Linked DNA regions of Homo sapiens: region 1 is reported to be linked to region 2. Evidence: microRNA targets listed by miRTarBase, many of them from high-throughput screens and not tested one by one. Region 2 holds a microRNA gene; the other region holds the end of a gene's coding sequence.
What was found. The annotated mature microRNA hsa-miR-6131 reads GGCUGGUCAGAUGGGAGUG and lies in region 2 at 2,656-2,674, opposite strand. An mRNA with a match to its seed (bases 2 to 7 or 8) in the 3' UTR can be bound and repressed. Matches are read on the target gene's strand: a 7mer-m8 pairs with bases 2 to 8, a 7mer-A1 pairs with bases 2 to 7 and ends in A, and an 8mer does both.

Region 1: the mRNA of SEC14L5 is a reported target of hsa-miR-6131. Seed matches in the 3' UTR shown: 7mer-A1 at 2,319-2,325, 7mer-A1 at 1,046-1,052 and 7mer-m8 at 292-298.

The regions. Positions count from the first base shown.
Region 1 is chr16:5,014,379-5,018,764 of GRCh38, reverse strand. SEC14L5 (SEC14 like lipid binding 5) reads right to left here. Exons shown (of 16, transcript NM_014692.2): 16 at 1-3,906. The coding sequence ends at 3,795. Among named protein-coding and RNA genes, the nearest start is that of NAGPA-AS1, 17 kb to the left of the region's middle.
Region 2 is chr5:10,476,395-10,480,780 of GRCh38, reverse strand. It overlaps MIR6131 (microRNA 6131), which reads right to left and starts at 2,744; the gene lies at 2,636-2,744. It also overlaps a transcript of ROPN1L not described here.

The DNA.
Region 1 (4,386 bases), not on the chromosome of region 2:
GGAAAAAACATTTTCTAACTGCCAAGGGAAATACCACTCAGAATACACTCCCTCAGATGGGTGGACTTACCCAGAAAACACAAGCAGCTTCTTTCTTCTTTTTTTGAGACAGGGTCTTGCTTTGTCACCCAGGATGAAGTACAGGGGTGAGATCATGGCTCACTCCAGCCTTGACCTCCAAGCAATCCTTCTGCCTCAGCCTCCCGAGCAGCTGAGACTATAGGCACGCACCACCACGCCTGGCTCATTTTTTAATTTTTTGTAGAGACAGGGTCTCACTATGTTGCCCAGGCTGGTCTTGAACTCCTGCACTCAAGCGATCAGCCGGCCTCAGCCTCCCAAAGTGTTGGGATTATAGGCATGAGCCACCACGCCCCGCCCACACAAGCAGTTTCTAAAAGAGAAAGACTGCACACCCAACTCAGAGGGCAATAATTCTTGACACCTACTTTTCTCTGGGTGCAATAACGAAAAACAGGGATAGGCGACCTCAGGAAGAAAACGAGTCTTTGGATGCGAAGCATTAAGTAATCAGAATGACCACTGACATTAATGGAGCGCTTTCTGTGTTCTGGGAGCTGTGCTGAAAGCTTTACAGCTACTCCCTCATTTCGTCCCACTACAACCTATTGAGGTAGGCACTGCTATCCTCACTTTACAGATGAGGAAACTGAGGCACAGAGAGGTTAAGTCACCTGGTCAAGGTTACACAGCTAGTGAAAGGAAGGCTGGGGTTTGAGTCCTGGCCTAAATTCAAGGCCCAGGTGCCCAAACACCAACAGTAATGCTGCTTGTGGGTTGCTTCTGTCCTGGTCACAATGGATTAATGAACTAATGATGCAAGAAGCCCAAGCCAAGGCACTTCCAGCCTTTGTGGCTCAGGGGAAATTCAAAAGCCAAAAGCTTGGCAATCCCTTCCTTGGATTATTTTTAATTCCAGTCCTCCCGAAGGCAAGAAGAATGACCTTGATAATGCTTCCACGTGGGTCCCCGAGACCTCCACATGGGAGGAGAGCCGGCCGTAGCAGATGCCACCATGGATACCTGCTGGTTCTGTGGTCCAGCTTCTCTTGTCCATTGGGGGAATGGCCCTCCCCAATCCTGCTGCGGCTTCTGCAGGGAATGTCAATCACGGGACCCTAGTTCCTTGCCAGTGTGGCCCACAGGAATAAGCATGTGACTCGAGCTGGGCCAATCAGAGCCTTCCATGAGATTTGAGATGGAAAAGCATCTCTTAGAGTGTGAATCCTGAAATTATAGGCTTGGGGCTGCTGGCAGCCATCTTTCCCGCCAGGTGGAAGAAAGAATGAGGTCAGCATGCAAAGAGATGCAGAGTCAAGAGGCCTGGGTGCAGTTGAGAGGCCTGAGGACATTAAGCTCCTGGATCCAGCCATATCTGAAGCAGCACCCACCTTCAGCCATCCCTAGTACAGGACCCAGGGAATTTGCTTTGTTGCTTAAGCCAGTTTGGGCTGGTTTTCCCTAGGGAGAGAGCACTCTCAAGAGCAGAACTGAAAGGGCCTGAGGTTCCTCACCCCCACTGTTAAGGGTGGACAGCTGATAGCAGACTCCCCTCCCCCCACCCGCCTCTGGAACAGGCAGTTCCAGCTTCCTTCCGTAAAAGGCTTCTGTGTCCTTCTCTGGGGCTAGACAATAAATGTATAAAGACTGCCAGGGCAGCTTATCCCAGCATACTTGTAGGATAACACCTAGTTTTTAAGAGAAAAGCTAGAAATTCACTTAAAGATAGTTGAAAATATTGCAAGTTGCTCTCAGCAATAAATGCCTGGTGATATGGGAGCAATTAGTTTTGAGAACGTCTCCTTCCAATCAGTCGGTCTCTTATGCACACATGTGCACACACACCTTGACGCAGAGTGCAAAGCAATCTATTTTGTTCAGATACCTGAGAAGCGGACAGAGAGCCAACAGGAAGGTGGGCAAGGCTCTCTCCCAGCAGGAAGAAGGATGTATCTGAAAAGATGACACTTTCTCTCTTCCTTGGGTTTGGGGTTGAGGCTGGCGTAGATATAAGTTTCCTGGCCCTGCATTGCTGAGCCTGCATAAAGATGATTCTTGTGGCCACAAAACCACCCCTTGGCTCAGTTACTGCAGCAGAGATGAGCCCCAACTCTAAGCAAGGCCAGGAGACAAGGGTACCAGCCACTGCTGACAGAGCCATGTCAGTGAGACTCCTGCCACGCAGGTCATGAGGATGTGTAATGTGGGCTGGGCGCAAGTCAATGGGGTAGGGACTGGCGTGGCCACATCCAGGGGTGCAGAGGTGTTGTCTTCATGCAACAATAGTGACCCCATTCTGCTGGTGCTCCCAAATGCCTAAGGGAAGCCAGAAATCCTGATTTCGATGCGAAATGCCTCAATTTTTAAACCATTCTAAAGGCAAAAAAGCAACACTAAAAGCAGGCCAGATCAGGCTTCAAGTTGGTGACCCCTGACTGGCTGCCTTTTGGGGAGTCCAGGAAAGGAAAGGAGAAATGTCCTCAGGCCCCAAGGAGACCCAAGACGCTCCTGTGTAGTAACTAGGGGAACTCATGTCAATATTGAACCTAGTTCCAGAGTCATATCTGCCCCAGGGCAAACACAGCAGCCTCCACTCGCGGGGGGAATCGAGACTCCATGTTGAGACCCTGGATCTAGCCTTACCTGAAGCAAGCCCTCCTGGACTGGCCAGTTCTATGCACCCATGAATGATCATGCTTTTGTGTTGAAGCACCTGGGCATGGGTCTCTGTGGCTTACAACCAAAAACAGTCATAATTAAACAGTTCCCTAGGAGAGAAAGGCATCTCCAGTGGGGTATACAGACAGCCTCAGTCACCCCATCACTGCCTGGAACTTAGCAGAAACCCAGGGCTCTCCCACCCTCTCCAATCAGGGATGGTCAGGCTTAGGCCATGCTGGCCAAGTGCAGGGAACATGGATTTTCACTTCAGGATGTGCTGTTCCCCACAAAGAGCAGCGCCTGTAACTCACTTAACTGCTCACCAAGCACATCTTGATACTGCATAACAGAACGTTATGCAATCAGATGCCAAGGTAAACACCCTTCATTTCTGCCTCCCCAGCATCCTTCCTCCTTCTTCTTAGGGGGGACCCCAGTACTCCTCGAGGCACCCACTAGTGCTTTTGAGAGCAGGTGGTTGGTTCCAGAGATGTGCATGTGATCCAGGCTGGCCAATCACTGCACCTCACTGCAACCCTGGATCACGGTGATTGGTCCAGATTGGGCATGACCCTGCTGGCCAATCAGCATTCTCCAGTGTGCCTGGCAACTGTGATTGGTTCAGGAATTGACCTGGCAATCGCTCCCCCTTCCAGGCTAAGACTCAGCTCTGGGAAGTGGGCTGGAGCCTTTGGGAGGAAGAGGCTCTCTTATGCAGGCAAGCTGCAGGGAGGAGAAGGGCACCTGATAGTGATGGTCCCCTGCATGGCGAAAGCAGAGCAAGAGGTGGACAGAGAGGAGATGGGCCTGGCTGACGTCGCTAAGCCCGGATGTCCCAAAGGTGTGGTATGGTAGACACCTTGGCCTTGGCTTGGTCTTCCTTACACGAAGCCGGAAGGAGATGGTTCTGTCCTTGCAATTTCAAGAGCCCTGACACCACCCACAGGCCAGTTCTGGATCCTTGCCATCCGCTCCAGACACCCCAACTTGGGCAGCATCTAGGCCTGGGGCTCCAGCCCACATGGTCCCAGGCCCTGCAGTTAGCTGGCTTCTCATTCTGGACATTTCTGGACACTGGAGGCGAGCGGGCGGCCCTGAAACACTGGGCCCGGCTATCTGGAGACCAGGGAGCTGCTATGAGACTGGCCGGAGGAGGAGGACGAGGTGGCGGCGCTGAGCTGGGAGAAGCCGCTGGTGCAGGATTCCAGGCTGGACATGGAGCCCCTGGGGAGGAAGGGCGTGGCACACGTTACCCTCTCACAGTGACAAGGCCCTTGGGCTGACACACAGCAGTGGAAAAGCTGTTGATGCTGCAAATCAGGCCCCAGGGCCCCAGGCCGATGCAAAGGGAAAAGCAAGTGACGCCATGAAGAGAAAAGCACTACCGAATTCCCCACACTCCCATCTCCCCAGATGGAGCCCAGCCTGCCACAGACCCATCAGGGGCTCCCCTGGCCTGAGGCCCTTGCATGGCCCTAAGGCCGCCACAGCCCAGGGAGTCCCCGGCCCTGTCTCCAGTCTCACTCCCTCCTTACTCTTTGCACTCAAATTCCATGGTCCTCCTCCTAGCTCTTGCAGTGGCCTTCGTGTGCGCTGAGCCTGAGGCAGAAGCCCATTCTCTCCTCCCCCAGCTGTCTGGTTAACTCCTACTCCAAACCTCAGGGCAGCGCCATCCTCGAGAACTTTCTTTTCTTGTATAGAGAC
Region 2 (4,386 bases):
AGACATCAATGAGCACACGAGCTGCCTGGAAATCTGATTCTGACTGGGTCTGAGCTGGATCCCAAGATTCTGCATTTCCAAGGCTCTCCCAGGGGATGCTGATGCTGCGGGTCCTTGGACCACACTCGGAGGAGCCACTCACACTGGAGGACACACTCAACATAAGGCCACACTCGCTGGCATGCCTGGAGGATGGGGAGGGGAGGGCTTCCATACGGCTCCCACCTGGACCCCACTGCCCCCGCCTCACCGACCCACCCCAAGCACACGCAGTCTCAATTCCAATGTGTGCATCTGTTCAGCAACCAAAATAGGATTCTCCAGGCTGTGCCTCCCAGGGGATCCTAGGAATTTCCTGGAACAGAGATGGGGTTTTCAGGATGGCCCTGGTCTCCAGTCCCCTCCTGACAATCCTACTCCGGGAGGTTCATCTGGATCCCCCTCCAGCCTCCTGGAAGTCTGGCTGCGCATCAATTGCCTGGCACATAGATGACAGCCATTAAATGCTTTTCGAATTAATGAAAAAAATCTATCAGTCTATATTTGTGTATTTCGTAGCTCCAGGGGACAATCAAAAGAAAATAAAATCCCCCAGCTGAAATAACTACATTGGTTTATGGCCTATTTATTCATTTATCTGCCCTTGTGGAAGCTAAGAAGTTCCTATTTTTAGCACCTCCCATGCTCAGACATGGGTTATTTTTTGTCTTCAAACTCTCCTAAAGAGTTGACATGTTGGCTGGGCACAGTGGCTCATGCCTGTAATCCCAGCACTTTGGGAGGTCGAGGCAGGCGGATCACCTGAGGTTGGGGGTTCAAGACCATCCTGACCAACATGGAGAAACCCCGTCTCTGCTAAAAAGACAAAATTAGCCAGGCGTGGTGGCGCATGCCTGTAATCTCAGCTACTTGGGAGGCTGAGGCAGGAAAATTGCTTGAATTCAGGAGGCAGAGGTTGCGTGAGCCGAGATCGTGCCATTGCACTCCAGCCTGGACAACAAGAGAAACTCCGTCTCAGAAAAAAAAAAGAGTTGACATGTCCCAGCCTATTACCGCAAAGCCGTGCCGTGCATTTAGTGAGAGGAGACAGTAGGGACAGGAGCTCAGGCAAGAGGCCTCCTCTCCCACAGTGCCCAGGAAATAGTCACAAGGTGAGACGCCCGAAGCAGCTGCCAGCCGAGTCCCAGCCTGGCGTCCTGTGCTCTCCCTCGGGTTTCCAGGGAAGCAGGTGTGGCAGCCCCACCTCTGCCCACCCTGTTCTCACTCCACTTCCAGAGAGGAGGGTGCGGGTGTGAACTCTGCAGCCCGTGTTTGCAACTCTGCCAAGTAGGCGTGACCAAATGGCAATTTAAAAGCCACTCACCTAAAGATGTGGGGTGTCTGAGCCAAGCCTGAGCGCCCATTCTAATCCTGTAGAAATATTTGAAAGAGAATAGTCATCACATCTGGGGGGCTGGGCTCAAGATTTTTCTAGCACTGACTCACTCACAGAACTTGGGCAAGTCTTTACATTCTCCAGGTCTCAATTTCTGCATGGAAGCATGGAGACAGTCATTGTAGACCAGTGTCACTTTCCCTTATATGCTGGGGACTTGAAAGAACTATTACACACTCCAAAGTGACTAATTTATAGCTTAATCACTTGTAACATCTTTCTAACCTACTCACACACGTTACCATAATTATAGCAGCCACCTCAAAAACAAGGACACCAGGATAATCATGAAAACACTAAAAACAGAGTGCTAAAATATAGCTGATTTCGAAGGCATTAATCTTCCTAATCCTTCTGTGTGGACAAGAGGCTGCAAATATTGGTGAAAACATCATCCTCATCATCATCACATATCTTTACAACACCCTATATATTCTTTCCAAAATTGGCCATGCCATTTTGCCATCTTTTCCCGCTCCTGAGATAAGTAGAAAACTATTCTTATTTTCTCCAATTAGCACTTCTTTTAGGCATTGGAAACCTAGCAAGATTTGGGGAGGAAGATTTACTGGCTTGAAGAGTGTTTCCCACCCCAAAATTCATGTCCACCCAGAACCTCAGAATGTGGCCCTATTTGGAAACAGGGCTGTTGCAGATGTCATTAAGATGAGATCATACCACAGTAGGGTGAGCTCTAAATCCAACGACTGCTGCCCTTTACGAGAGGAGAGGATGCACAGTCGTACGCACAGAGAAGACCATGTGAAGAGGGAGGCAGAGATTGGAGTAATGCACCCACACGCCAAGGAATGCCAGGGATTGTCAGCATCACCAGAAGCTGGCAGAAGCAGGAAGGACCCCCACCCCCAGCCAGAGCCTTAGAAGGAAGTGTGGCCCTGCCAATCAAGTCCGGGAAGCTAGAAGTCCAAAAATTTCTAGCCTCCAGGACTGTGAGAGAATAAATCTCTGTTGCGGAAGCCCCTGAGTTTGTGATACTTTGTCGGGGCAGCCCCAGGAAGCTAATACAGAAAGGGTACTGGGAAACTGGGAGCCAGAGGCTCAGAAGGGAGCTCACAGAGGCTGCAGGAACTCAGCTACCACTCAAGTATCTGGAGAGGGCTCAAGGTTTCTCTGGTTGCACCTTGATCCATCCCAGTAGACACACAGTGCAGGGCCCACCACGTGCAGTCATGAAGCCGGGAGGACCCCGGGTCTCTGTCCACTCCCATCTGACCAGCCAGAACCCACCATCTCTGGCTCTACCCATGGAAGGAGGGCACCACCTGACCAAAGCAGAGGGAATGCGGGATGAGAAGGGGCAGCAACGAGTGTGCCTGATGTGCTCGCTGCTGATTAAAGCTTCCTTCAACAGAGAGTTTTATCCTGGAGGATTTTGAATAGTTTTTTTTCTTTTTTTAGACAGAATCTCACTCTGTCACCAAGGCTGGAGTGCAGTAGTGTGATCTTTGCTCACTGCAACCTCTGCCTCCCGGGCTCAAGTGATTCTCCTGTCTCAGCCTCCCAAGTAGCTGGGATTATAGGTGAACGCCACCATACCCAGCTAATTTTTGTATTTTTAGTAGAGATGAGATTTCACCATGTTGCCCAGGCTGGTCTTGAACTCCTGACCTCAAATGATCCGATTGCCTTGGCCTCCCAAAGTGCTGGAATTACAGACATGAGCCACTGTGCCTGGCCTTATCCCAGAGGATTTTCCAGAATATTAAGCATACATGTCCTCTTCCTGCCATCCTCACGGAGCATCTGCCCTCCTGTCATCTTGCTCCTAAGTTTCCCGCCCTTTTCCTCAGGTCCTGAGAGAGTCTTGATGGCTGACCCAAATCCTTCCTTCCTGTCCATCAACAGATGTCAGCTCAGTTCCTGGCTGGCTGCGTGTCCTTGTTCCACCTGTAGTAGGACCGCTTTGCTTTCTTCATCTATACAGTGTGAATAACGGTAGCAGGAGCTACCTATAGATGAAGGTAGCAAGTCTGTGGACTAGCAAGTCCGTGGACCAGGACATGGAGCGCCCCACACAGTGCCCAGGTCAGTGGCCCTCGGTAAATGTGGGTTAACCTCTTTAACATGTTGAAAAAGGTCAAGGTTAACTGCATAGACCCGGGGTCAGCAAACAATGGCCCACAAGGTAAAAATGGTTTTTACACTTGTAAGTAGTTGAAAAAGTTCAAAAAGAAAAATATTTTGTGATGTGGAATTCTATGAACTTAATTTTAGTGTTCATTAATAAAGTTTTATTGGAACACGGCCACACTCACTCATTTTCATATTGTCTATGGCTGCTCTCATGCTACACAGCAGAGCTGAGCAGTTGCAGCAGAGACTGCATGTCTGCAAAGCCCAAAAGATTTACTATATGATGCACTACAGAAAAGGGTTGCAGGTCTCTGATAGACTCGAGCCAAATGATCTAACTTCAACTCCCAGATCCAAGACTTACTAGCTGTTTGACTTTACACAAATTATCTGCCTCCATTTCGTCTCTTTAAAATGGACATGATAGTCCTCATTTTAACATATTTTTGTGAGAATTAGATACATTATTATTTTTAAGGTCTTAGTGCCAGCATATAAAAATACAATTGATGGGTTCGATTATTTTCATGTCTTTGTTTTAATGCTCATTCTAACTCTTTAAATATCACCGTCCTTCTACACCAGAGTAAAATGTAAAAAAATTCTCAAGCCTTCTTTCCACTTGAAACACAAGAAAAGTTCTTTAAAACTGACTTATCATTTTCTTCTTTTCATCGTTGTTCCACATGCAAACAGATCCAGAAACCTTAGCTCAGACTTCTCAAATCCCAGATGGATTGTAATTTGTTATATTGGAGAAAAAAAGAAAATCTGTGCTCCCTAGCAGATGCACAAGGACTGTTTTGTTAGTCACATCTGCCACGTTCCTACTTTTCAGCACTAAAAGAACTTTTTTG